2 linked regions of the Homo sapiens genome follow. The protein of the gene in region 1 interacts with the protein of each later gene in a biochemical or structural test. Each region holds a gene or a part of one and is shown on either strand. Other genes may lie near its edges.

Evidence for each region.
Region 2: the proteins of CYTH1 (region 1) and ITGB2 form a complex in vitro, tested with the Homo sapiens proteins (one study listed by BioGRID).

Annotation. Positions count from the first base shown.
Region 1 is NC_000017.11:78,772,274-78,775,773, forward strand, and holds part of CYTH1 (cytohesin-1), read right to left. Parts: intron 1-3,500. UniProt on the Homo sapiens protein: Promotes guanine-nucleotide exchange on ARF1, ARF5 and ARF6. Promotes the activation of ARF factors through replacement of GDP with GTP.
Region 2 is NC_000021.9:44,896,900-44,900,399, forward strand, and holds part of ITGB2 (integrin beta-2 isoform 1 precursor), read right to left. Parts: coding exon 3,421-3,500; intron 2,264-3,420; coding exon 2,168-2,263; intron 1-2,167.

The DNA.
Region 1 (3,500 bases):
GTCCAGCACAATACACAGAGATGTTTCATCCCTTTCATCTCTCCTGTTCCAAATGACCTATGATGTGTGCCCCCCATACTTGAAATAAGAAGGCAATCTTCTAATTCTTACTATAGAATAAGTGTCCTAACTGATCGTGAATGCAAGAAATACTGAAGAAAAAATCTGTTTGACATAATCTCTTTTGATTAACACATGGAACATTTAGAAAGGAGCAGGTATGAGCCATAAGATTCCAGAAACTGAAGTGTTTTGTTTTGTTTCGTTTTTGTTTTTGTTTTTTGAGATGGAGTCTCACTCTGTCGCCAGGCTGGAGTGCAGTGGCGCGATCTCGGCTCACTGCAACCTCCGCCTCCCAGGTTCAAGCAATTCTCCTGCCTTAGCCTCCTGAATAGCTGAGACTACAGGCGTGCACCACCACACCCAGCTGATTTTTTTATTTTTATTAGAGACAGAGTTTCACAATGTTGGCCAGGATGGTCTCGATCTCTTGACCTCATGATCCGGCCACCTTGGCCTCCCAAAGTGTTGGGATTACAGGCGTGAGCCACCACACCTGGCCTGTTTTGTTTTTGAGACATGGTCTCACTCTGTTGCCCAGGCAGGAGTACAGTGGCACGATCTCAGCTCACTGCAACCTCCGCCTCCCAGGTTCAAGCGATTCTAGTGACTCAGCCTCTTGAGTAGCTGGGATCACAGGCAGGCACCACCACACCCGGCTAATTTTTTTTTGTATTTTAGTAGAGATGGGTTTTCACCATGTTGCCCAAGCTGCTCTTGTACTCCTGAGCTTAAGCGATCTGCCCACCTCGACCTCCCAAAGTGCTGGGATTACAAGCATGAGCCACCATGCCCAGCCTGAAACTGAACAGTTTATCATTATAACCCAGACCAATACAATCTGTTTAATTCACAGGAAGGTGTGGTGGCTCATGCCTGTAATCCTAGTACTTTAGGAAGCCAAGGCAGGAGAATCACTTGAGGCCAGGAGTTCAAGACCAGCCTGGGTAACACAGTGAGACCCTGCTCTATTTAATTAAAAGAAAAATTATAGTTTCAAAAAAAAAATCTACTGGCCAGGAGCGGTGGCTCACGCCTGTAATCCCAGCACTTTGGGAGGCCGAGGCGGACGGATCACCTGAGGTCAGGAGTTTGAGGCCAGCCTTACCAACATGGTGAAACCCCATCTCTACTAAAAATACAAAAATCAGCAGGGCATGGTGGCGTGCGCCTGTAATTCCGCTACTCAGGAGGCTGAGGCACAAGAATTGCTTGAACCCGGGAGGCAGATGTTGCAGTGAGCCGAGATTGTGCCACTGCACTGCAGCCTGGGCGACAGAGCAAGACTCCATCTCAAAAAAAAAAAAAAAATTAAATTAAATTAAATTTTCTAAAAATCTATTTAATTCACAATTTCTTCTCGTAAGGAAACATTTTGTAGTTGGCCAGAAGACAATATATGGGTTGAGAGATCTTTCATCTTTAAAAGAAAAATTAAAAGAAAGGTAAACGACTGTTACAATTAGCCAAAATCTAACCTAAACCCCAGTCAAAACTGATACACATTTTCCCCATGCTTAAAACAGTGACAAAAACCTGTAAATCACTTTATTTGATAGAAAAGAGTTAACCTAAGTTAAGTAAATAAACCATCATTTCTTATGATGTAGCCAGTTCATAATACACAAATATGCAAAATAAAAATTTTTTTCAATCCAGCTAGTGATCAGTAGATTTAATAAGTCACCATTTTGTAACCACCAAATTCAGTTTGTTTGCTTGTTTGTTTTAAAAAAAAACTTTTAAAATGTTGATCCTCACTGAGGGCACATTTGCACTATTACAGGTACGTGTACTGATACATTGCTAAGAAAAGAGTAAATTGGTGCAGCCCTTTTGGAAAAAGTTGGCACCAGACATCAAGAATTCTAAAAATGTTTATACTCTGACATGTTCATGTCACCCTGAGAATATATCTTAAAGACCACAAAGTGTGTATAATTATGGCAACCTTATGTTCCAGATTTTCTAAGAAGGTGTTCACTGTAAATAATTGTGTTCTTTTCAATAAAGGCAAATCAGTAAGTTAGTAACTAAGTTTGAGAATAATGGAAGTCATCCATATCATAGAAAAACAAAGAAAACGGGTTCTGCATGGGGTCAAACATGCACAGAAGTGTTCTGGTTTCTGTTTGAAATGGAGAGTTGAGGAAAAAAACTCAAACTCACCACATATTAACTTTTTACAAGATGGAACTTGGTTCAATCCATTATTCCCTCCACAGTTGCTGAGCTGCCTCTGTAGGGCCCCAGGCACCATGCCTATTCTGGAGACATGGTGATGAAAAGGCAAATCTTTCTTAAATGCAACAGGCTCCTCTCCCCAGCCCGCAGCAGCACCCAGACATGCCAGTGCCCAGACCTTATTTTTCTTGTTGAATCTTCTCACCACCCACACACAGGTCTCCATGGTACAGCATGACAGCTCTTCCTATAATTCTGATATAAATCCTCCTTTTATCCAGAGTCTTTGGTCACAAACCGTAATACATACATGTGAAATGTTCCCAAATCTTGAGTAGACACTCAAGATTATGCCTGTGAGAAAACTCCTTTCCATGAAAACACAGAAGAAACTACTCTCTTTTCTTATCAAACCCCCGAAGTACCCACCAGGGCATTCGGCATGGGAAATCGGGTTAGAACTGCCGCAAGGCACTGCTCCCTCAGACAGCCCACCACCTGTGGCTGGCATAACGGCCCTGGACTTGCTGCCTGCTTTCCCTCTGTGCCACTAGGCACCCACCCCTGCAGTCACCCCAGCTCCCGAGGCATCACACCATCCACAGACCACAGGGTTAGTCCTCCTGAGGTCCCTCTGTGTGTTATGACACCACACCTAACCCGGCACAGAAACCAGGCTGAACACCCTGACAGTCTCCTGTGGCCCATGAAGATTGGGGGGGCCGCTGGGGGTTAGGGGAAGAGGAGAGATGGAAGGAAGTTACTAATTAAGAGTGATCTTGAAAGCCTCGGGTGCTAAGGGTCTTTTTTCTTTTTACCCCTGTCCTGAGTATTCCCTTATATCCTTCCCTCAAAGGCCAAAGCTAGAGACAGCAGATACGTTTTTATGCAATTGGACCTCAATGCTTCTCGAAATATGCGAATGAACAACTTTCTTGAATGTCTTACCCCACCACTCTTCCTCTACAGAGAAAGTGAAACCTCGTTTTTTTAATTCTTGCTGAAAACACTGCTATTTTAACTTGAAATTTGTTCTTTCTTGTTTTAGATAATGAATTAGTTCTACCTTTCCTGCTTTAGATAATCAATCTGGGAACTCAATGTAAAAATTACATCAAAGGCAAATAAAAAGTAAGGTATTTCAGAAGCTGAATAAGTAAAGGACATTTGCAGACGTCTCTTCCTTTTCATTTGAAAACTCACCTAAAAATTATTTTAAAATTCTCTGTTGACAACTTCCCTAATTGAAGCTAACT
Region 2 (3,500 bases), on another chromosome or scaffold:
GCTGCCATGACAAATGGCAAAGGATTGGGACCTGCTACTGCTGGTGAGGAGGGGACCGTCATGGCCACCTACAGATGGGACACAGGGCTGTGACATCCTGACCAGCAGGTGGTCTCTGTGGATGTCCGGCCCCAGCCCTGCCCTGCGCTGACCCACTGTCCCGGCAGCCTGACCAGCTCTGGGTGCCCACTCGGAGGGTCCCCCAGACACCTGCCCCCATCCCGTGTCTCCCGCAGGGTCCTGCTCCCACTCCAGAGCCCGGGGAACCTATGGCAGGAACCGCTGGTCTCGCTGTCGGCCCCAACACACCACGAGGTTGAGCTTGTAGCTGGGATACGGGCCTGACAATGGATCCCTGTAGTTCAGCAAATGTTCACTTTACAAAAGCAGCGGCCCTCCCGGGCACTTTCCTTCCCCAAACCCCGAGTATGTCTCCTCAGCCTAAGCAGCAGGGCAGGGGCTGTGAGGCTGCCCAGCTGGGCAGAGCCCCAGGCAGGGGGAAGAGGGGGCCCTGGTTTCCTGCGTGCCATTTTGAAGAAGATGGCGGTGATGGCCCTGGAATGGCCAGCAGGTCGGTCACTGTCCGGATGAGGATAATCGGGCCCTTTAGGGCGGCTGCTCTGTGAATTCCCTGAGTGGGTGAGCTCAGTACCCACGACGCACTGCCCGCCGGGCACCACTACCCCTTTCACAGATGAGGAAACTGAGGGCTCGGGGTAAGGAAGGGCCTGGGGCGTCCTGTGGTAAGTAACAGAGCTGGGTGTGAGGTGAGCCACCCAGGGCCCTGTCCACCCTGAAGAACGGGGCACGTGGCTGTGTAAAGTACAATGACAACTATCTCGTTCCTCCAGCTCCACCCTGAAGAACGGGGCACGTGGCTGTGTAAAGTACAATGACAACCACCTCCTTCCTCCAGCTCAGTCCTTCTGTCCCTGTGGCCTCAGGGCCACACACTGTGCAGGCTGCTATGGGCGGAGGCTCCTTTCAGGAGGGCGTGCAGTGTTTCCTTCCTTCTAGCGAATCCCTGTTACACAGTCAGGGCTCCACCCAGCAGGCCTGGCTGGCCACACCCCACACATGCCAAAGAGTGGTAGACCCCGGCTGAGCTCCTGAGAGGTAGCCTCTGAGCCCTTGGTACATCCTACCCGATGGGGGTGTCATTGTTCCTGGGGCCTCAGGTCACACCGGATAGTCCCACAGTGTGATTTGGGGTGGGGCCCTGGACAGTTTTCAGCTTGACCTCTGGAGGGCTAGAGACTGAGGTCAGCCATGGGGTGTCAGCCGCGCCGCTGTGACTGACCCCCAGTAGACACCGAGGCTCAAGAGCCTCCTTGGGGACCATGTTCTGTGCATGAGGCCACACATCATCGCTGGGAGGATGGAGCGCCGCCCACACCCCTGCAGGGAGGGGACACTGGGAGCTGGTGCCTGGTTTCTCTCCTGTGCACCTTTGACCTTTGCTGACTTTTGTCTGTATCCTCCCACCTCGGGCAGCGGCTGGCACCCAGGAGGGTCGGCTCTGCAATAAACTGTAACTGTGAGTTTACTGGTTCCTGAGCTCTGCAAGTCCTTCCGGCAAATCACTGATCCTGAGAAAGGTCTTGGGAACCCCAACAGCACCTGAGCGTCTTGACGCACTGACCTGCTCAGGCTGAACACATGGCACTAGCAGCGGAAATGCAGGATGAACGTGTTTCACTGGGGGCCTCTTTTTCTAGGAGCAGAGGCTGGTTATCAGCTGTGCTTCCTTCGTGAAATTCATCCCACTCCGCACTCCAAGCTTGTGAACGTTTTTGTGTAATTTTATCTTCACGGAGAGTGTTGATGTTCAAATGTATGTGAGCATAAAATAAGTGTGTTTCCATAAAATAAAGAATTGTGTTGTATTCCAGGAAAAAACAGAAATATCACCAATGCCAAGACATGCTGTTAACACAGCTGAGTTTCAGGGACGGGGAGGAATTCCTCCTCCTATCGACACGCAGGCGTCCTGTCCCCGACGGGAAGCCTCGGGCTCCTCACCTAGGGGGATCCAGGACCTGGGCCGGCTGGTTGCTCACGTGCCCAGCATGCAGAGGTGGCGCTCAGACCTGCAGTGGCGCTGGGTCTGGCCTGTGGCTGAAACATGCCCCCACCCAATGGATGCTCGGGACCCAACAGCACTCACCTCGTAGGTCTTCACCATCCTACTGGTCACCGCGAAGATGGGCTGGATGTTGTTTTCAGCCAGCTTGTGCGCCAGCTGGCCCACCGATGGGTAGTCCTGGAGAGAGGAGGTCCTGCTCAGTTGGCCCCGAGTCCAGGACAAGGCTTCCAGGTACCCGCCCCTGTCTGCCCCGCTCAGCGTCAGCCCTGCCCGTGCTTCGAACCCTCTCTGGGGAAGGCTGGAGAGGCAGAGGCTGCCACGCAGGAGTGCAGGGCAGAGAGCTGCCACGCCCTCTGGGCAATGTGTGCATAGACTCGGGCTTTCAGAGTCCAGGCATGAGCAGCATTTGAGGCGTCTCACCGTGGGACTGGGGATGTCCACGGGGGCAGAATCCCAGCCTTCCCCACACGGTGGACCTGCTTTCGCACTGAGGGACACTCAGTTTCGGTAGAGGCCATGAGTGTCAGGTGCGGCTCTCCCTACCCGAGTTCCGGGACCCGAGGGCCGTCCCTCCCGTCTGTGGCTCCCGGCGGAGGACCTGAGTCTTGTATCTCTAAAGTCCTTTGCGGCCCCCAGAGCCTACAACGTCAGGCTGCAAGAGCGTCGCACTACGGCCAGCGAGGACAAGCCCCTTGTGACCAGTGGTTGCCTCTCGGCCCACGGCTGATCCCAGCCAGAAGTCCTGGCCCCTCTGAGCCATTGAGATGCCTCCGCAGAGAGGCTCATCCTAACCCGTGCATCCTGGGCTCCTTCTCGCCTCTGTCCCTCCCTGCATGTTCCTCATGGTCCCCGCAGCCGCTCACCCAGCTCAGGCAATGGGGGCAGGGAGGGGCCACACTGGAGGAGGCGGACTCAGGGGCAGCAGGGAACGTACAGTGGAGGCCGGGAGGGGGAGGAGGCGGATGCTTGGGGATGGGACCCTGGCCAGAGGCGGGGACGGCAGGGTGCAGCCGTAGCCTGGGGGCGGTTACTATACCTCCACAGCAGCTGTCAGCCCAGGTAGGGGGGCAGTGGGGCTGGAGACCAACAGAGCCTGGGTGTCCCACAAGGGCGAGGCCGGGCCTCAGCCTGGCTGCCCCCACCAACCCTACCCTCCCCTGGCCTGAGGCCAGTCCGGGGAGACCCCACGCTGCCACTTGGGGCTTCCAGAAGTTTCCTCAGGAATCTGCTCCTTGGGTCAGAAGGAGGCTCTGTCAGGTGGAGACCCCACCCTTGTCTCCTCCGTCAGTGGTGTCCTGCCAGGCGGTGCCTGGGTGCCTGGGGTGGGGACTTACGAATTCGTTGCTCCTCTTGTACAAGTTGTCCTCCAGGTGACAGCGGCCGTCGTTGGGGGTCAGGATGGCGCCCAGCTTCC